Regions from separate parts of the Homo sapiens genome. Here regions 2, 3, 4 and 5 are each linked to region 1. Evidence: fine-mapped expression QTL. A gene starts in region 1. Each other region holds a variant in brackets. All regions are shown on one strand. Distances are between the middles of the regions.

Region 1 (4,197 bases):
TGACAGCTGTGGGTGACAGCCATGGGTGGACAGCATGGGTGACAGCTGTGGGTGGACAGCTGTGGGTGACAGCCGTGGGTGGACAGCATGGGTGACAGCTGTGGGTGGACAGCTGTGGGTGACAGCCGTGGGTGGACATCATGGGTGGCAGCTGTGAGTGGACAGCTAGGACTCCTTCCCTGAGGGTGGCAGCTGTGAGTGACAGCCGTGGGTGGCAGCTGGGACTCCTTCCCTGTGGGTGACAGCTGTGGGTGACAGCCGTGGGTGGACAGCATGGGTGGCAGCCGTGGGTGGCAGCTAGGACTCCTTCCCTGTGGGTGACAGCTGTGGGTGGACAGCATGGGTGGCAGCCGTGGGTGGACAGCTGGGACTCCTTCCATGTGGATGACAGCTGTGGGTGACAGCCATGGGTGGACAGCATGGGTGACAGCTGTGGGTGGACAGCTAGGACTCCTTCCCTGAGGGTGGCAGCTGTGAGTGACAGCCTTGGGTGGCAGCTGGGACTCCTTCCCTGAGGGTGGCAGCTGTGGGTGGACAGCTGTGGGTGACAGCCGTGGGTGGACAGTGTGGGTGGCAGCCGTGGGTGGCAGCTGGGACTCCTTCCCTGTGGGAGGCAGCTGTGAGTGACAGCCGTGGGTGGACAGCCGTGGGTGGCAGCCGTGGGTGGCAGCCGTGGGTGGCAGCTGGGACTCCTTCCCTGACCTGAGCTCACTTCATTTGACCAGGAGCATCAAAAACAGTGTGTGCATCCAAACCACTGTGAATCCCCACACTGTAAAAACAAAAACTTCAAACGTCACATATTTTGTCCACTTTGCCCTCAATGCACGCTTTATCCATGTGAGTGTGAGCAGACATAGAGCACAGCCCTCACTCCTCCATCCACCAACCGATGGCAGCAGCAAGCACAGTCAGGCTTCTCAGCACACAGGATGAAGGAACAAGGGAAGACAGCCCCACGGTCTGACTCCGAGTCCCAGCTGAGGAACCAGCCAATAGCATGGACAGCACTACTTCCCATCAGCATGACTGTCAGGTATTTGTCGAGCACCTACTGAATATTAGGTATTTGTTGAGCACCTACTGAATATTAGGCTTTTTCTAGTCATTTTTGACCAATGACAATATCAGAGTAAAGGAAATTGATTATTCTAATAGAATTCCTCTGAATGTAACATTTAGATTGTATAGGCTAAGAAATCATAACTAAGCCTCATGTCTTAAAGTGCTGGTTGTATTTCTAGGTAGGAATTCTTACATCTAAATTCTACAGTATATGCAAGTTATCTAAAAATTAATACTTGTGAACAATTATGTATTAAAATAAATTTTTCTTTTCAAAAACCCAGGCAACTTTAAAATTTTCATTAAATCAACAATTTTAACAGCCTATAAAGGCTTCTGCCAAATGTTGAAGATCATCAGAGCTAGCTGAGTACAGAGCACCTCAGCCACCTCAAGAGTGGCAGGGGAGGAAATAAAGTCATATTTTGGCTTCACTCACATCTTATTACTTCCAGATCTGATTCTTTCTTTCAGACTGGCAGCCACTACATCCTGCTAATATTCAGAGCAAATTTCTCATGAAATGCCCTGTATCTGCTCCTCACATATGCAAAGCTGAACAATGAGTTCCCATCCATGGATTCTGCACTGGAGTCTCATGTGATGAGAGCTGTAGTGTAATGAAGACCACAGCTCTGACATGAAAATGATGATGCTATTTTCTCATTAACCAAATCCTCTGATGTGTCGTCGCCAACATTGCGCACGTGGCTTCAACGAAGATGAAACGACCGACAGCTGTCCTAGCGCCATGTTCACTCCATTCGTCTCAGGAAAAACCCATCCCAACCTGATTAGAGCAATGGAGAGAGGGTGGCTTAAAACAGCTAAGCCTTTGCATAACTCGTCTTCAAGTCAATCAGAAAAATTAGGGAGGATCTGCTGCCTAACCTTCAAACAAATATTTTGGAATTGTCTGAATTATATAAATTATTCAAGATAGAAGAGAAAGGAGATAAGGAAAGCAGAAAGAAAGGTACTAATTAAGAAAGGAAAGAACTGGAGAGCGGGAGAGGTTGGGAGGAAGGGCAGAAGAAAGAGGTAGGGGAGAGGAAGACAGCAAGGAGCAAAGGAAGGGTGGGCAGGAGGAAGGTTAGTTGGAGAATTTCTCGGATCTTATGTGTGATTATCTCCTTCCTCTGTAGCTGAGGAGTGGCATCAAAATGGCAACACTAAACTATCCAAGATCTCCTGAAAAAAAAAAACACCCCAGTGGAGAAGAAGATCCCACTCTTCACCATTATTCTTCGCGTGTTGTTTGAGAATCCCAGACTGTCTTCTGGCTCCCGTTCTTCCCCCTCCTTGGACGCCATGACAACTGTCACATGACCCTGCAAACACAGCGTCTCCAGGTCTGCACCAGGCCCCAGCTGCTCCTCTGTCTGGAATGAGCAAGACGATTTTGTTGCTGAGATGCACGGAGCCCCCCGGCTGACCTTTCCCTGTGCCAGTGAGTACCTGTGGCATGCAAGGGAGAAAGCCTATCAGGACCACAGGAGAAAGGTAGGAAAGTCCCCAATCCAGCCCTGACAGCTCAGCGGGCGGGCACCAAGCAGCGCCCACGAAATGCCTCTGCTTTCCCTGGAGTCCTGGAGGTGATTTTCTTTTTGGAGACAGCATGGTTGAAATGACATTTCCTAACAAGATTCATCATCTATGTTGCCATACAATAAAAATCTCATTAAATAGTTGACGGCTTTCTTTCTTTCTTTTTTTTTTTTGAGATGACAGCTTTCATGTGCCATGTTTTAGGGCCATCCTATTTCTAATCACAGCATATATTTAAGAAGTACTTAATTTTTCCTAAGTGACTTGAAAGCATCTTAAGACAAAAACACCAGAAGCATCCTTTTCTTTTTCTTTCTTTTTGTTTTTTGTTTTTGTTTTTGTTTTTGTTTGTTTTTGAGAGGGATGTTGCCATAGGGGTGTTGCCATGTTGGTCAGGCTAGTCTTGAACTCCTGATTTCAGGTGATCCACCTGCCTCAGCCTCCCAAAGTGCTGGGATTACAGGCATGAGCCACCGTGCCCGGCCCGGCATCCTTTTCTCTATCAAAACAGTGGACTCCAAGGGGGACTAAAAGCCAACCCTTGTCCCCATTAGAAGATATGTTATTATTTCCATTTATTGGATGCAAATGTGGACAATTGTTTGAGGGCATCGCCATGCAGATCTGAGGTGGCCTCCCACAGTCTTCTGCCCACACCTCAGTGGAGGCGTCAGAGAACGATGTTCCATGTATCATGTCTCCACATGTGTGTTGATCAGGCTGGAAATACTCTTAAGAAGGAGAAGTTTGGGTTTCTGTTTCTGGGAATGGAGACACTGCCCTGTAATGATCTTAAGTGACTACCCCAAGGAGTGAACTGCAGGTCAAGCATTTCTCTTCCTCCTAGGGTTGCAAGTGACATTGTGTGGCCTGGGCTGCAGGTCACACTCATTGCAAGGCGCCATAGCACCCAGCCCCCACCCCACGTCAGGCCTCTGCACCTGCTGTCTCCTTTGAGGTCCCCACTGGGAACTCTTCCCGGCTCCTTCCCCAGCTCAACCTCACTTCCTGGCACTCCGGTTCCAATATCATCTCCCTGGAGTCTTCTCTCTCCCCTCTGCCGCTCTCTGGTTCCTGGGCCTGCTACCTCCTGTTGCCACGTGATTGATGGGCATGTTCATTACTTGTGTTGTTTTCCCCACTCAGTGCTGACCACGTCCTGCCCACCACGATGTTCTCTGCACGTAGAGTGTGGAGTGAGCACTTGGTCAACCGTTGTCAGTAGGGAAAGATGGAAAGCAGTGGGTAAGGCAATAGCACATATGAATCAGTTAGCATTACAGTAATACTACAGGATAGAAACCCCATGGGTGTTTTCTTGTTTGCTTTTGTATCCCGGGGACTAGAATACCTCCTGCATGAGGTAGCTGGTCAGTAATCCTGCAGCCTAAGTGAGTAACCAGGCTCTGTACCTGAGAAACTGTAAGGTAAAGAAGGTTGAAATTGTCGTCATGGGAGGTGCAGAGATGATTGAATAGTGAACTTTGGTAGGTTGACTGGAGCCATGAGGCCCCAGGGGGCATAAGCTAGTTTAGCAGCTCTGTGACGTCGGAAACCTACAGGTACTGGGTCCAAGGATGGAGT
Region 2 (4,000 bases), 70 kb after region 1:
TGGTAAATTTTGAACTTTTTAGGTGTCTTGGTTTGCAGTGGGATGTTACTATCTCATGGTCGGTCATAAAAATGAACATGCCAGAAGATATCTCAGGTATGAATTTATTTTTTTCCTCTCTAGTTAACCTGTAGAATTGATGTCTTGCTCATAAGCTTTCAAGTAGTAATTAGTGAGTACTTTAAAAGCAATGTGAAAGAATAAATGTTTTTTTTTTTCTTCCTTTCTTTTCTTTCTCTCTTTCTTTCTTGCCTTTTCTTTTCCTTCTCACCTCCCCTCCCCTCTCTCTCGAGGGTTCTCACTCTGTTGCCCAGACTAGAGTGCAGTGGTGCAATAATAGCTCACCTCAAACTCAAATGATCCTCTTGCTCAGCCTCCCGAGTAGCTGGGACTACAGGCACCACCATGCCTAGCTGATTTAAACATTTTTTTTTTTTTTTAGTAGAGACGAATCTCACTGTGTTGCCTAGGCTGGTCTTGAACTCCTGGCCTCAAGCAGTCCTCTTGCTTCGGCCTCCGAAAGTGTTGAGATGACAGGCATGAGCCACCATGCCTGGCTGAATAAATGTTTTCTTCAAGTGGTTTGTTCTTTATAAGATGCCATGGGGAGAGAGAGAAAAAAAAAATCAGTGATGTAGACCCTATTCTCAGGGAACCTACATATTTTATTTATTAATGAGAATAAATGGCCAGGCATGGTGGCTCACACCTGTTATGCCAGCACTTTGGGAGGTCAATGCAGGTGGATCACCTGAGGTCAGGAGTTCAAGACCAGCCTGACTAACATGGTGAAACTCTGTCTACTAAAAATACAAAAAATTAGCCAGATATAGTAGTGGGCATCTGCATCCCAGCTACTCGGGAGGCTGAGACAGGAGAATCGCTTGAACCTGGAAAGTGGAGGTTGCAGTGAGCTGATATCGCACCATTGCACTCCAGTCTGGGTGACAAGAGCAAAACTCTGTCTCAAAAAAATAATAATAATAATTAATAAATGAGAATAAATATGAAACAATAGAGAATAATGTAGTTTGAAAGTTTCTCTCTTTCGCTTACAGAGATCCTGTTAACCTTTTACTTTTAGGATTTCTTTTATTAATAGTTGTGAAATTACACAAAACTTTATGTAAAATTGGGGTCACTAAATGTGACTATAAAACAGAATTCTTAGCAGGGTGAACTGATTCATGTAATGATTTGCTGTGGTTTTAACTTAAGGAAAGCCATGCAGCCTAGTGAAGCTATTTAACCAGTATTATTCAAGTTTAGAAAAATGTCAAGTATGTGAAGAATTAATTACTTAAACTCTGTAAATGTTCTAATTTCTGTGGTTTCTTCCGTGCAAATAAAACAGAATTGGTCTCTAACGGAAACAGCATAAACTTTGGAGTCAAATTTGAATTCTAATCCAAGTTCTGTGACTTACCAACTGAAATTCCTTGGGAAAGTTAATTTCTCCTGCTCTCTCTTTCTTTAAAAATGGGGATGTCAGCCAGGCGTGGTGGCTCACGCCTGTAATCCCAACACTTTGGGAGGCCGAGACAGGCAGATTACCTTAGGTCAGGAGTTCGAGACCAGCCTGGCCAACATGGTGAAAGTCTGTCTCTACTAAAAATAAAAAAATCAGCTGGACATGGTGGCATGCACCTGTAATCCCCGCTACTTGGGAGGCTGAGGGAGGAGAATTGTTTGAGTCCAGGAGGTGGAGGTTGTAGTGAGCTGAGATTGCACTACTGC[A/G]CTCCAGCCTCGCCGACAGAGTGAGACTCTGTCTCAAAAAAAATAAAAGGGAGTGGGGGTGGGGGAGATGTCATACTCATATAGCAGGATTGTTAGGAAGACTGATGCCACGAAAGTACCCTGTACTAGGAAGAAACTAGAATGTTCCCTGGTTGGTTGTATGTTCAGCATTTTAGAAGAACTTCTACATAGAAAGATGATTAGTATTGTAAAAGTTATTTTGAGCTATGCTGCTTTGATCTAGCGTGCAATTCAGTGATGGACTCTTATCAGTGGTCCCCAACATTTTTGGCACCAGGGACCATTTTGTAGAAGCCCCCCCTCCCAGGGTGGGGGGACTGGTTTCTTGATGATTCAAGCGCATTACATTTATCGTGTGCTTTTTTCTATTATTATTACATTGTAGCATATAATGAAATAATTATACAACTCACTATAATGAAGAATCAGTGGGAGCCCTGAGCTTGTTTTCCTGCAACTAGATGGTCCCATCTGGGAGAGATGGGAGACAGCGACAGGTCATCAGGCATTAGATTCTCGTAAGGAGTGCGCCACCTAGATCCCTCACATGTGCAGTTAACAATAGGGTTTGCGCACTTACGAGAACCTAATGCCTCTGATCTGACAGGAGGCAGAGCTCAGGCGGAAATGCAAGTGAAGGGGAGTGGCTGTAAATACAGATTAAGCTTTTTTTTTTTTCAAATGGCAAGTTCTTTCTTGACATATGAAGCTTTACTCACCTGCCTGCCACTCACCTCCTGCTGTGCCGCCTGGTTCCTAATAGGCCAGGGACTGATACCAGTCTGTGGCCCAGGGGTTGGGACCCCTGCTCTACATGAAACAGGTAACATTTGGATAAAAGAAAACTTAAAATACAAGGAAGTAGGGTATCACCCCCTATGTCTTCCACGTTTTGTGATATGTTCTCTTTATTCCTTGTGGGTTAATTATACAGTGTTCACTGTATACAATTATTCACTGATATATATGAGTCCAGTCCCTGTAACCAGGGTATATCTGTTGACCATCATCTATAGGATATCGCCTAATCCCTCAAGCCTTGGTATACCTGTCTTTAAAATATAAATGAATTTATCTTGCAAGTTATTAGGATGAGAGGATGTATCTACTAGGTTACAAAATGGAGCTCCTGGATTAAGTAATATCTGTAAGTTCTATTTAGAATGCTAATGGGTTTTGCTACAGTGCATAAAAAGCTGTGGATCTCCTCAAATTTCTTAAAATTTTGCTATACTATTAAACAGTTTTAGTTCAAATGAATCAACACAAATGTTACATTAGTGTTTAATGTGGTGACAGCTTGTTTACTAAATGGATGTTAATGTTTTTGAGGCCATCTCCTTATATAAAATTAACAATTCAAGAATAAATACTAGCTGGGCACAGTGGCTCGTGCCTGTAATCTCAGTGACTCAAGAGCCTGAGGCAGAAGGATTACTTGAGCCCAGGATTTTGAGGCTGCAGTGAGCTATGATCATACCACTGCATTCCAGCCTCCAGCGACAGAGCAAAACTCTGTCTCTAAAAATAAAAAATAATAAATAGGCTGGGCGCAGTGGCTCACGCCTGTAATCCCAGCACTTTGGGAGGCCAAGGTGGGTGGAGCACCTGAGGTCAGGAGTTCAAGACCAGCCTGACCGACATGGTGAAACCCCATCTCTACTGTGAATACAAAATTAGCCGGGCATGGTGGCGGGTGCCTGTAATCCCAGCTACTCGGGAGGTTGAGGTAGGAGAATTGCTTGGTATCTGGAGGCGGAGGCTGCAGAGAGCCGAGATCGCACCACTGCACTCCAGCCTGAGCGACAAAGTGAGACTTTGTCTCAAAAAAAAAAAAAAAAGAATAAATACTATATGACTTAAATTAACTCTTTTGTTTTAGCAAAGCCACAACACTTGAGAAAACCTATGGACCTGCATGGATAGCCTATGGACATTCATTTGCGGTGGAGAGTGAGCACGACCAAGCGATGGCTGCTTACTTCACAGCAGCACAGCTGATGAAAGGGTACGGCAGAGCAAACTCATCAAACTCCATGAAGGGATGTTTTTCCTAATAGAAATGAAATTTCTATTACTATTACTGCTATTTGGTTGCTAAACTAAACACAAACATTTTACTTGCCTTTTAATCTAGTTGCTTGTGATTGTAAAATAACTATGAAAGTGGAGGGGAGAGAAGCTGGTGTATGCATTTGCCTAGCAGTTGATTCCAACCAGTGCAAGAAGCAACCAGGAAATT
Region 3 (4,197 bases), 46 kb before region 1:
GGATTTAAACCACATTAACAAAAGAAATCCCTCCTCTCTGGACTACTCAAAGCGGAAGTGCTGCCACATCCTAGCTGCAGCGCTTCTGGGCCAAATATCAAGACAGTGTCTCAGCGATGATCCGCAAACCAAAATAAAGCCGACAGGAAACAGCCCGCTGGTTTAGGGGAGCTGGAATGCCTCCGGCAGCATCAAATGTCATCAACAACTGACACTCAGCCCGTTCCCGGAGGCCTCTTCACACGGGAAGAGGCCGGCTGCGAAGTGCGGCTCAGTGGGGGAGAAGGACCGTGGGGACCGCGACACTGCAGGCCCTGGAAGCCTCTCCAGCCTGAACCGCGCTGTGGTCCAGCACACTCATGGCATGAATATGGAACAGTCACTCCAGGAAACGGTCTTGCTCTGGGGGAGGGGGAGGACTTCCACATCACTCTCCCAAGATAAAACAACCAGGGAAAAGCAGATCCCTCCAGATAAACCAGAAGTCCAGACACAGCCTCCTCTCCGGAAACGCCTCCGGGAGCCCACTTCAGAAGCTGCTGAAGCCCAGAGAAAAACCGCAGCCTCGCAGGCCCTGGTCGCCACCAGCTCGCCCGCCACTTCTCAGTGGAAAGGGACGTGGTGCCGATGGGTCCGGGGTCTCCCCGCCCCGCGGGAGCCCTCAGCCAGAACGCCCCACCAGCACACACGCACACATGCACACACACAAACGCGCGCACACACACGCGCCCACACACAAATACACACGCGCGCACACATGCATCCACACACAAATACGCACCCACACATGCACCCACAAACGCACGCGCACACACACCGCCCACACATGGACACACAAACACAAGCACACACAAACACGCGCGCACGCAGGCACAGACGCGCGCGCACAGCAGCAGCAGCGCGCCGGGGCCTCACGCCCCTGGGGAGAAGCGTGAAGGAGCCTCCACATTCCCCGGAAAGGAAGTTTCTGGGCGCAGCGGAGAAAGGGAGATGCCGAGACCCCGACGTCAGTGGATTTGACACCTGAAGTGCAGGCGCCCAGACAGCCTCAGGCGCGCGCACTCCTGCAAACACGCGGGGCACACGCTCGGGCGCACACGCGGACAGACGTCCCTCGGCGCAGGGACCCCACCTCCTCCGCCGCTACCAGGGACCGGGGCCGCTCCGGGCGCAGAGGAGGCGCAGGGAGCCGCGTTACCCCGGAGCCGACTCGACCCAGCCCGAGGCCCGGGGAGGCGGGGAGGTGGGGAGGGGCCGCGGAGCCGGACCAGCCGTTCTCCGGGGAGCGCGCCGCGCCTGGAGGGCGTCTCCGCCGGGGTCCCCAGCAAGGATCTGCGGAGGGGAGGCGGGCGCGGGAGAGGACAGGGTCGGGCCGGGGGGTCGGACGCGTGGCTGCCGGCGGACACTCACCGATCTTGATCTTCACGCTCTGGAAGACCCGGAGCCCCTCGTCCTCCACCGCCATGCTGCGCGTCCGCGCCCGCCGAGCCTCGCCCCAAGCGCGCGCCGAGCCCGGGCAGCTCAGGCCGAGCAGGAGGAGCGGCGGCGCCGGAGCCCCGAGCGCGGCCGAGGGTCCGCCCGCCTGCAAGACCGCCAGTTGGCCGAGGGCGAGGGCGGGGACCGGGAGGCTCCGCCCGCGGCCCGGCCCCTGCTCCCAACTGGCCCGGGCCCTGCAGGGGCGGGGTTGGCAGGGACGGCGCTGGCGGGTGGCGGAGACCCGGGGGGCGCAGGGATCGGCTTCCCCCGAGGCCTCGGCCCCCGCCCCCGCCCCGCGGATTGGCCGCTGAGCGGAAGGGACCCC[A/C]GCGGGCTGCCTGGCGGAAGAGACGAAGGAAGGTCGCCGGCGCGGCCCGGGCCCGCTGAGCGAGGCTGAGCGATTGACTCGCGGACGAACTTTGCCAAGAGAAGTTCACGTACAACGATCTGGCAGGGGAGGAATCCCGCGCCCAGCCCCAGCTCCTGAGATGCGATCCGAAGGCACCTGCTGCAGACGCACGAGGGGGGCGGGGACACATACACGCACACACAGCCCCCCACCCCAGACCTCCGGCATGGGCAGGTCCCCCCCCCAAGTCCCCCTGCAGACCCCAGCATGGGCAGGTCTCCCCCCCCCCAGTCCCCCTGCAGACCCCGGCATGGGCAGGTCTCCCCCCCCCAGTCCCCCTGCAGACCCCGGCATGGGCAGGTCTCCCCCCCCAGTCCCCCTGCAGACCCCGGCATGGGCAGGTCCCCCCCAGTCCCCCTGCAGACCCCGGCATGGGCAGGTCCCCCCCCAGTCCCCCTGCAGACCCCGGCACGGGCAGGTCCCCCCCCAGTCCCCCTGCAGACCCCGGCACCGGCAGGTCTCCCCCACCCAGTCCCCCTGCAGACCCCAGCATGAGCAGGTCCCCCCCCAGTCCCCCTGCAGACCCCAGCATGAGCAGGTCCCCCCCCCAAGTCCCCCTGCAGACCCCAGCATGGGCAGGTCCCCCCCCAGTCCCCTGCAGACCCCGGCATGGGCAGGTCCCCCCCCAGTCCCCCTGCAGACCCCGGCATGGGCAGGTCCCCCCCCCAAGTCCCCCTGCAGACCCCGGCATGGGCAGGTCCCCCCCCAGTTCCCCTGCAGACCCCGGCATGGGCAGGTCCCCCCCCAGTCCCCCTGCAGACCCCGGCATGAGCAGGTCCCCCCCCAGTCCCCCTGCAGACCCCGGCATGAGCAGGTCCCCCCCCCAAGTCCCCCTGCAGACCCCGGCATGGGCAGGTCCCCCCCCAAGTCCCCTTGCAGACCCCAGCATGGGCAGGTCCCCCCCCAAGTCCCCCTGCAGACCCCGGCATGGGCAGGTCCCCCCCCAGTCCCCCTGCAGACCCCAGCATGGGCAGGTACCACCCTTACCTCCCTTTCTTCTGTCTCGAGGTCTCCTCCTCCCTGACCTCCTCTCTGAGGAGTATGTTTGTGTGTGTGTATGAACTGTAGGTGTGTATATGAACTGAGACTACACTCCCTCCTCTATGTTGCAAAACTTCATTGCACCCAGTGCCACACACACACCCTACACATATATACACACATACATATACCACACATACACTACATATACATATACATACACATAGACACCACACACAGACACCACACACATACTACACACGTGTACACACATACATATACACACATATACACACACCCTACATACACACACCACATATACACATGAACACATATGTTCATATACACACAACACAGACAGCACACACATATACTACCCATACACATGCACAGACATACACACTAAACATACATACACACACCTACGTGAACATACACAAACACACACACACTGCATGGAGAGGAACAGGAGCTTCATGAAGATAGAGGCCTATTTTTTTCCACTGCTTACCTTCACTTCCTAAAAAGCAGTTCCATGCGTTGAAAGAATGAATGGCCTTTCTTCCCCTGACTGCTGGGAGCCTGCAGCCACAGGGGCCTCTCTCATCCTCAGCCCTTGCAAGCCTGGTGCTCACTGGGGCAGAACAGGAGGTTAAGGCGGCACCCCTGGTTCCAACCCAGAGCCTCTGCGTCTAGCGCTGGCCCTGGGTGGCGTCTGCAGTGGGTGCTGTGGACGCCATCCACACCCCTGCTTTACGACGGAGACTATGCTTCCGTTTGGAGCCACTGGAAGCAAGCCGGCTCCTGTGTTTCTCCGAGGACCAGTGGAGTCCTCTGTGGCAGCCCAGCCACAAAGCTGCTTCTCTGCCATCCCTCCACCCTCACAGGCCTGCTGATAAACTCAACGCGGATCTCGCTTTGGTGTTTGTTTCCAGGCGACAGCTGGGGTCAGGAGTGAATCTCCAGACTGCAGCAGTGGCAGCCAGGACGGGAGCCCCTTGGAAGGAAATGCACTGGCAGCGGCAGGATCTCGGGTGCTGGAGAGTTCGGGAAAGTCACAGATACATGGACTATGGAATCAGGTGGCTCGTGTTGAGGGCAAGATAATGAAAAGATCACCACCTGAAACAAAAGGGTGGCACGCTAACGGGCCTCCTCAGTGCCACATAAGACACTCATCTCCTGTGACCAGAGGAAAACCAAAACACTGGATCAGGGCCAGGACTTAACCGTGTAGAAGGCAGAGCTCCAGAGAAGGCCAGGTGCTTGGCCTCAGAAGGTGTTGTTCCAGGTTCGGGTGCTCGGCCTCGGAAGGTGCTGTTCCAAGCTCTGGA
Region 4 (4,000 bases), 60 kb after region 1:
TAATCTTAAAATTCGTTTTCTATTTCACCTTGTACCTCTGACCACTTATGTGAATTTTTCCCTCCAGAAGAACCCCAGGACATCTATTGGTTGGCTCAGTGTCTTTACCTGACAGCACAATATCACAGAGCCGCCCATGCACTTCGGTCACGAAAACTGGACAAAGTAAGTGATGGTATGAACTTTAAAGCTCTTCAGAGCTTTAAAAAAAATGTCATTAGTGGCCGGGCGCGGTGGCTTACACCTGTAATCCCAGCGCTTTGGAAAGCCAAGGCAGGTGGATCATGAGGTCAGGAGCTCAAGACCAAGATGGTGAAACCCCATCTCCGCTAAAAATACAAAAATTAGCCGGACGTGGTGGCAGGCGCCTGTAATCCCAGCTACTCGGGAGGCTGAGGCAGAGAATTACTTGAACCTGGGAGGTGGAGGTTGCAGTGAGCTGAGTTCGTGCATTGCACTCCAGCCTGGACAACAGAGCAAGACTCTGTCTCAAAAAAAAAAAAAGTCATTAGGGTTTTAGGTGTATATTCCATTTCTGTTGAAATTATTTAACTTGATGCAATTTTTCTTTGTTTTTGTTTTTTTGAGGTCTCTCTGTGTCACCCAGGAGTGCAGTGGGATGATCGTGGCTCACTATAACCTCAGACTCCTGAGTTCAAGTGATCCTTCTGCCTCAGCCTCCCTAATAGCTGGGACTACAGGTGCATGCCACCACACCCAGCTAATTTTTAAATTTTTTTGGTAGAGACAGAGCCTCACTATGTTGCCCAGGCTAGTCTTGAACTCCTGGTCTCAAGCAGTCCTCCCGCCTTGGTCTCCCAAAGTGCTGGGATTATAGATGTGAGTCATCACAGTAGGCCCAGTTTTTTTTTAGTGAAAGTGAAGGGAAAATGTCTTATACCTAATCTGTCACCTTCTTTTTCCCCCATCTCCCATCTAGTCTCTAAATTCTGAAGACTGTTTTCTAAACAGCTCTGGAATCATGGATATTCCTCTTCCTCCCCACTCGTACGTGTCAGGCCTTTGATTTTTTTGTCTGTTCTGTTACAGCCTCTCTTCTTGTCTCTTTTCCCCAGTAACAGTTTCTCTCTTCTTATCTTCCCTGTCACAAGTTCATCTTGTGAACTATTACAGGAGTGAGTAGTCTTTAAAACACGGATGTGGTTATATTCCCACAAAGTCATTCAGTGACTTCCCATTAGCTGCAGGATAAAGTCAGATGCATCAGTAGGTCTGTGAGGCCCTCCTTGTTTTCTCTCCACTCTGCGTCTAATCCACCACCATCAATACCTGGAGCACGTGCTCCAGTCACGTGGTGCTGCTGTGAGCTCCTTGGACACCCAGCAGTTATTCACACTCAGGGCCTGAAGTGGAGCTGCTGCGATCTCCTTGGACGCCCAGCAGTTATTCACACTCAGTGCCTGAAGTGGAGCTGCTGTGAGCTCCTCGGACGCCCAGCAGTTATTCACACTGAGGGCCTGAAGTGGAGCTGCTGCGATCTCCTCGGACGCCCAGCAGTTATTCACACTCAGTGCCTGAAGTGGAGCTGCTGTGAGCTCCTCGGA[C/T]GCCCAGCAGTTATTCACACTCAGGGCCTGAAGTGGAGCTGCTGCGATCTCCTCGGATGCCCAGCAGTTATTCACACTCAGTGCCTGAAGTGGAGCTGCTGCGAGCTCCTCGGACGCCCAGCAGTTATTCACACTCAGGGCCTGAAGTGGAGCTGCTGCGAGCTCCTCGGACGCCCAGCAGTTATTCACACTCAGGGCCTGAAGTGGAGCTGCTGCGATCTCCTCGGACGCCCAGCAGTTATTCACACTCAGTGCCTGAAGTGGAGCTGCTGCGATCTCCTTGGACCCCCAGCAGTTATTCACACTCAGTGCTTGAAGAGCTACCCAGTGCTCCACTCCTCTGCCTGACCACTTACTCGCTGCCTCACTTACTCGCTCTCCTGCAGATGTTTACTTCTCCACCTGGTTGATGCTTTCTGTTGCCCCGTTTCGTCATGCTTACCTGTTGTGCTTAGTTCACATCTCCCCTACTGTAACCTCCTGGGGCAGGGCCTTACTGCTTTTGAATCCTTGGTGCCTAGTAAACAGTAGGTTCATAATAAATATGGTTTAACAGGACTGGATTTTTTTTTTAACTGCAAGAGTAAAAGGAGAAATTATGAAATTAGTTCTATTTTATGCTTATGGCTTTCTTTGAAAGTGAAGATACATATTATTTTGACCACTACTTAAACAAATTAATTTCTTTCCTAGTTGTATGAAGCATGTCGTTACCTTGCAGCTAGGTGCCATGTAAGTATGCTCATAATTTCATTTTTATTTGGTTGAATAAAATGAGTGTTATGCATCTCTTAAATATGTGTGAGAATTTTAGTGATGGAGCTTAGCAGGTTAGTAAAGTATTTCATGAGGAAGTGTTCCTTTCCTTAGTCATGTTTGCTATAAAATACTGATTCTTCGTTTACCACATGCTGACATGCATGAAGAAAATTCTACTTTAGACATTTCACATTTAAATAATGGGCATAGTATATGTTATCCTTTAAAAATTCGGATCATGTGTTTCGTGTTAGAAGTCGTGAGTGATGAGCGGCACTTCTGTTTTCCACGTAGTATGCTGCAAAAGAGCACCAGCAGGCCCTTGATGTTCTTGACATGGAAGAGCCCATCAATAAAAGATTATTTGAAAAATACTTGAAGGACGAAAGTGGCTTCAAAGATCCTTCCAGCGACTGGGAAATGTCACAGTCTTCAGTAAGTAGTACTGTGAGCACAGCTCAGTAACGGCGGCGAGAATTGCCCTCATTACGTGGCAGAAACACATTATCTTCTTTTACTTATTACTATATTAAAACAATTGTGGTTGCCAATTTATTTAATTTGCCCACCAAAACCAAAAAAGATTCTGAGACATTTCTGAGCCCTTAGTTGCAAGCTGTAATTGTATCCGCAGATGCCTGCATCCAAAATAGGCTGGCTTGAAACTTCCTTCTCATATTTGATGCCTTAAGCTACTCCCTAAAAGTGGAATAATTTTTCTTCTCCTTTCTGTGTTTCAGCAGTGTTTTGGACCTACACCAAGAAACTTTGATTAGCGTACATTGTTTCTTTCCAGGAAATGGTTTTGTGTTCTGTTTGCTTCAAAGTACATTGCTATGTAATTGTGTATATTTCAGTTTGTATACTTCATATCTCCATGAAATTGCACATTCCTTGCTGGCAGACATCATATAGTAACTTATTAAGTGACATTTACAGATCACTAATCTGGATTTAAAAAAAAAAATAAAAACTTATTGAGGTATAATTTATATGCCATGCAGTTCCCCCATTTAAACTGTATGGTTTGATTCCTTTTAGTGTATTCACAGAGCTTTGCAAACCTCACCATGGTCAATTTTAGAATATTTTTATTATTCAGAAAGAATCCCTGTAAGCCTTACCTGACCTACCAATTTCTCTTTCTTCCCACATCTTTTTTTTTTAAATTAAGACAGGGTCTTTGCTTTGTTGTCCAGGCTGGAGTGCAGTGGCACAATCACAGCTCACTGCAGCCTCAACCTCCCAAGCTCAAGTGATTCTCCCACCTCAGCCTCCCGAGTAGCTGGGACTACAGGCGCCCGCCACCATGCCCGGCTAATTTTTTGCTATTTTAGTAGAGACGGGGTTTCACCATGTTAGCCAGGATGGTCTCGATCTCCTGACCTCGTGGTTTGCCCACCTCGGCCTCCCAAAGTGCTGGGATTACAGGTGTGAGCCACTGTGCCCGGCACAGTTGGCTAAATTTTTTAAAAAATGTTTTGTAGAGACAGGGTCTCACTGTGTTGCCCAGGATGGTCTCAAACTCCTGGGCTCAAGTGATCCTCCTGCCTTAGTTTCCCAAAGTGTTGGGATTACAGTCATGAGCCACTGCACCTGGCCCATTTATTTATATTTTTGGTAGAAGTTTATTACTTGACTTTTCACCTTAGATAGTTATTTTTAAGCATAAAAGA
Region 5 (4,197 bases), 20 kb before region 1:
GTGGGGAAGGGTGGGTGCTGGGCGTGGATGGGGTGGGTGCTGGGCGTGGGGTGTGCACCTCCTCTGGGCTCCCCGACCTTCACCCTCGCCCTTCCCAGTCCTGGTGTCAAGGTAACTGGAATGTGTTTCTGTTTCTCTTTCTCCTTTTGATTGTTTTTCTCCCCAGAAGAGGAGAGGAAGTGTCCTTTCGGTCCCCTGTCCTGGGTCTCCTTGCTTGCCCCCACCTCCCCACCAGCCTCTGCCCTGTCCTTCTGCTCCGGAAAGTTTCCTCTGTGGAGGAAGCGTCCTGCCTCCCTTCTCTTCTCTGAAGCCTATTCGCCTGGCATTTCCTCAGCGCATGGTCCAGGACTTTAATCTCTCCTTGAGAATTCTCCATCTGTCTTTTTGAGGCATATTCTGGAAACCTCACTGGACCCTGAAGTCCATCTCTTTCGTGGGATTTTCAGTTCAGAAATCATATTTTAAACATCTTTCCTGCTCTCTGCCTGTTCTTAACTAGTATTCTGTTCTTATGTTACCTATATGCGTATTTTCTTGAATATTCTGAGGACAGTAATTAGATCTTTAACTTCATTTTTTGTTTTCCCACTTAGCTGTTTTCTCTGAGGTCAGCTGTCACCTTTTTTTTTTTTTTTTTGAGACGGAGTTTCACTCTTGTTGCCCAGGCTGGAGTGCCCAGGCTGGAGTGCAATGGTGCGGTCTCAGCTCACCGCAACCTCCGCCTCCCGGGTTCAAGCGATTCTCCTGCCTCAGCCTCCCGAGTAGCTGGGATTACAGGCATGCACCACCATGCCCGGCTAATTTTGTATTTTTAGTAGAGACGGGGTTTCTCCATGTTGGCCAGGCTGGTCGTGAACTCCCGAACTCTCAATCCACCCACCTCGGCCTCCCAAAGTGCTGGGATTACAGGCATGAGCCACCACGCCCAGCCAGCTGTCACCTTTGTGGATCCTCCCCCTCTGTCGCTGGTTTCTATGGAAAGTCTGGAGAAGCCTGCTCACCTGTGTCTAAGAACCAGTGGCTCATTTAGATGGGATACTGTGGGTTTTCCGTGGGGTCCTCCAGGTGGAAAGGTGAGCTAGGGGTGGAAAGGTAGCTGGGGGTGGAAAGGTGAGCTGGGAGGGAATCCACAGACGGGGCGTGGCTGTGCTTTATTTAGGACAGATGGGTGAGGAGCAGGCAGCAGGCTAGCATCTCTCCCTTCCCCCGAAACACTGCAATCCACACTAGAATAAGGCACATATACACCATGGAATACTGTGCAGCCATGAAAAAATGATGAGTGCATGTCCTTTGTAGGGACATGGATGAAGCTGGAAACCATCATTCTCAGCAAACTATCGCAAGGACAAAAAACCAAACACTGCATGTTCTCACTCATAGGTGGGAATTGAACAATGAGAACACATGGACACAGGAAGGGGAACATCACACACGGGGCCTGTTGTGGGGTTGGGGGGAGGGATAGCATTAGGAGATATACCTAATGTAAATGACGAGTTAATGGGTGCAGCACACCAACATGGCACATGTATACATATGTAACAAACCTGCACGTTGTGCACATGTACCCTAAAACTTAAAGTATAATTAAAAAAAAAAAAGATTTTACCCTGGGGCCCTAGACCCAGGCTGCAAGCTGTGGCCACACCCAGGATGCTGACTCCAGGGCCGTGAATAAGAATCTTCTGACGCTGCCTGGGAACCTGCTGGCTTCTTGGCGGGATACAGACGCAGGCACGGGTTGCAGAGGTGACTACTGCCAGGCACTTGTTCACAGGCAACTGGAATTACCAGCCCCCACCCCGTTTTCAGCCCCACATCTATCTCCCTTTGACCTCCCAGCTCAGTGCCACTCTGGGATCCCTCAGCAAGATGACCCTGGCCTCCACCATTGATCTCTGAGCATCTCTGGCTGGGCGCCTTCACCCTGCCCCACCGCCCACACCCTTGCATCCCCTTCCACCTTTGGAAATCATTGGCCATTCTCATCTGCCAGCACCTCTATTCCTGTTCTCTTTGGGGCTACACGTTTCTCCTTGGACTTTGTTTCAATCCAACTGGGCCTGAAGAGGAGGGAGGCCCTGCATTCAGGGTGCCCAGCAGCAACTGCCCTCCACTTAGCGGGAGTTCAGGACAGGACAGAGTGCTTAGACATCTGGGGGCATTCCAGCACTTCCAAAGACCCCGTGCGTGGTGTTCTCAACGTCTGTAAAATGTGGAGGTGAACATTAGACTATTGCTCTCCTAAGAACTTCAGTCACGCTGAGCACAGGGGGTAAATTCATCCCTGGTCGCATTCTTGTGAAAGGCATTATGTAGCAGATCATCTTTTTTTTTCTTTAATTTCATTTTATTTTATTTTAAGTTCTGGGATACATGTGCAGGACGTGCAGCCTTGTTGCATAGGTAAACGTGTGCCATGGTGATTTGCTGCACAGATCAACCCTTCACCTAGATATTAAGTCCAGCATACATTATCTTATTTTTCCTGATGCTCTCCC[G/A]CCCCCCAACCCCACGACAGGCCCCGGTGTGTGTTGTTCCCCTCCCTGTGTCCATGTGTTCTCATTGTTCAGCTCTCACTTATAAGTGAGAACACGCAGTGTTTGGTTTTCTGTTCCTGTGTTAGTTTGCAGAGGATAACGGCTTCCAGCTCCATCCATGTCCCTGCAAAGACATGATCGCATTCCTTTTTATGGCTGCGTAGTATTCCATGGGGTATATGTGCCACGTTTTCTTTGTCCAGTCTATCATTGATGGGCATTTGGGTTGATTCCATGTCTTTGCTATTGTGAATAATGCTACAATGAACATACGCATACGTGTATCTTTATAATAGAATGATTTATAATCCTTTGGGTATACACCCAGTAATGAGATTGCTGAGCCAAATGGTATTTCTGGTTCCAGATCTTTGAGGAATCACCACACTGTCTTCCACAATGGTTGAACTAATTTACACTCCCACCAACAGTGTAAAAGCATTTCTATTTCTCTACAGCCTCACCAGCATCCGTTGTTTCTTGAGTTTTTAATAATCTCCATTCTGGCTGGCGTGAGATGGTTTCTCATTGTGGTTTTGATTTGCATTTCTCTAATGATCAGCGATGTTGAGCTGTTTCTCCTATGCTTGTTGGCCACATGTATGTCTTCTTTTGAGAAGTGTCTGTTCATGTCCTTTGCCAACTTTTTAACAACAAGGTTGTTGGGTTTTTTTCTTATAAATTTGTTTAAGTTCCTTGTAGATTCTGGATATTAGACCTCTGTCAGATGGAGAGTTTGCAAAAATTTTCTCCCATTCTGTAGGTTGCCTGTTCACTCTGATGACAGTTTCTTTTGCTGTGCAGAAGCTCTTTAGTTTAATTAGGTCCCATTTGTCAATTTTTGCTTTTGTTACAATTGCTTTTGGTGATTTCATCATGAAATATTTGCCCGTGACTGTGTCCTGAATGGTATTGCTGAGATTTTCTTCTAGGGTTTTTATAGTTTGGAGTTTTACATTTAAGTCTTTAATCCATCTTGAATTGATTTTAATATAAGGTGTAAGAAAGGGGTCCAGTTTCAATTTTCTGGATGTGGCTAGCCAGTTTTCCTGGCACCATTTATTAGACAGGAAATCCTTTCCCCATTGCATGTTTTAGTCAAGTTTGTCAAAGATCAGATGGCTGAAGATGTGTGGTCTTAGTTCTGAGTTCTTTATTCTGTTCCATTGGTCTATGTGTCTGTTTTTGTGCCAGTGCCATGCTGTTTTGGTTACTGCAGCCTTGTCTGAGGTCAGGTAACTGAAGCATCCAGCTTCGTTCTTTTTCCTTAGGATTGTCTTGGCTATATCGGCTCTTTTTTGGTCCCATATGAATTTTAAAGTAGTTTTTTCTAATTCTGTGAAGAACGTCAATGGTAGTTTAAAGGGAATTGCATTGAATCTATAAATTACTGTAGGCAATATGGCCATTTTCACAACATTGATTCTTCCTGTTCATGACCATGCAGTGTGTTTCCATTTGTTTGTGTCCTCTCTGATTTCCTTGAACAGTGGTTTGTAGTTCTCCTTGAAGAGGTCATTCACTTCCCTTGTTAGCTGTATTCCTAGGTATTTTATTGTCTTCGCAGCAATTGTGAATGGAAATTCATTCATGATTTGGCTCTCTGCTTGTCTATTATTGGTGTATAGGAATGCTTGCAGTTTCTGCACATTGA

What was found.
Region 2: its variant is fine-mapped to the expression of CFAP97D2 in whole blood (TOPMed, PIP 0.98).
Region 3: its variant is fine-mapped to the expression of CFAP97D2 in whole blood (TOPMed, PIP 0.97).
Region 4: its variant is fine-mapped to the expression of CFAP97D2 in whole blood (INTERVAL, PIP above 0.99).
Region 5: its variant is fine-mapped to the expression of CFAP97D2 in whole blood (TOPMed, PIP above 0.99). The same link has a PIP of 0.9 or more in blood mononuclear cells.

Annotation. Positions count from the first base shown.
Region 1 is chr13:114,176,853-114,181,049 of GRCh38, forward strand. It overlaps CFAP97D2 (CFAP97 domain containing 2), which reads left to right and starts at 2,405. Exons shown (of 4, transcript NM_001395229.1): 1 at 2,405-2,568. The coding sequence starts at 2,479.
Region 2 is chr13:114,246,909-114,250,908 of GRCh38, forward strand. It overlaps CDC16 (cell division cycle 16), which reads left to right. Exons shown (of 18, transcript NM_001078645.3): 11 at 23-96; 12 at 3,641-3,766. LOC105370384 (a long non-coding RNA gene) reads right to left here. Exons shown (of 4, transcript XR_007063887.1): 4 at 3,708-3,811. Among named protein-coding and RNA genes, the nearest start is that of MIR548AR, 4.4 kb to the left of the region's middle. The variant A/G (reference allele first, on the strand shown) is at 1,738.
Region 3 is chr13:114,131,025-114,135,221 of GRCh38, forward strand. RASA3 (RAS p21 protein activator 3) reads right to left here and starts at 1,599. Exons shown (of 24, transcript NM_007368.4): 1 at 1,411-1,599. The coding sequence starts at 1,465. RefSeq lists enhancers at 25-524, 695-1,322, 3,611-3,790, 3,620-4,120 and silencers at 1,115-1,774, 1,805-1,904. The variant A/C (reference allele first, on the strand shown) is at 1,802.
Region 4 is chr13:114,236,732-114,240,731 of GRCh38, forward strand. CDC16 (cell division cycle 16) reads left to right here. Exons shown (of 18, transcript NM_001078645.3): 3 at 68-165; 4 at 2,259-2,297; 5 at 2,619-2,759. Among named protein-coding and RNA genes, the nearest start is that of CDC16, 3.8 kb to the left of the region's middle. The variant C/T (reference allele first, on the strand shown) is at 1,566.
Region 5 is chr13:114,156,381-114,160,577 of GRCh38, forward strand. No RefSeq gene overlaps it. Among named protein-coding and RNA genes, the nearest start is that of CFAP97D2, 21 kb to the right of the region's middle. The variant G/A (reference allele first, on the strand shown) is at 2,505.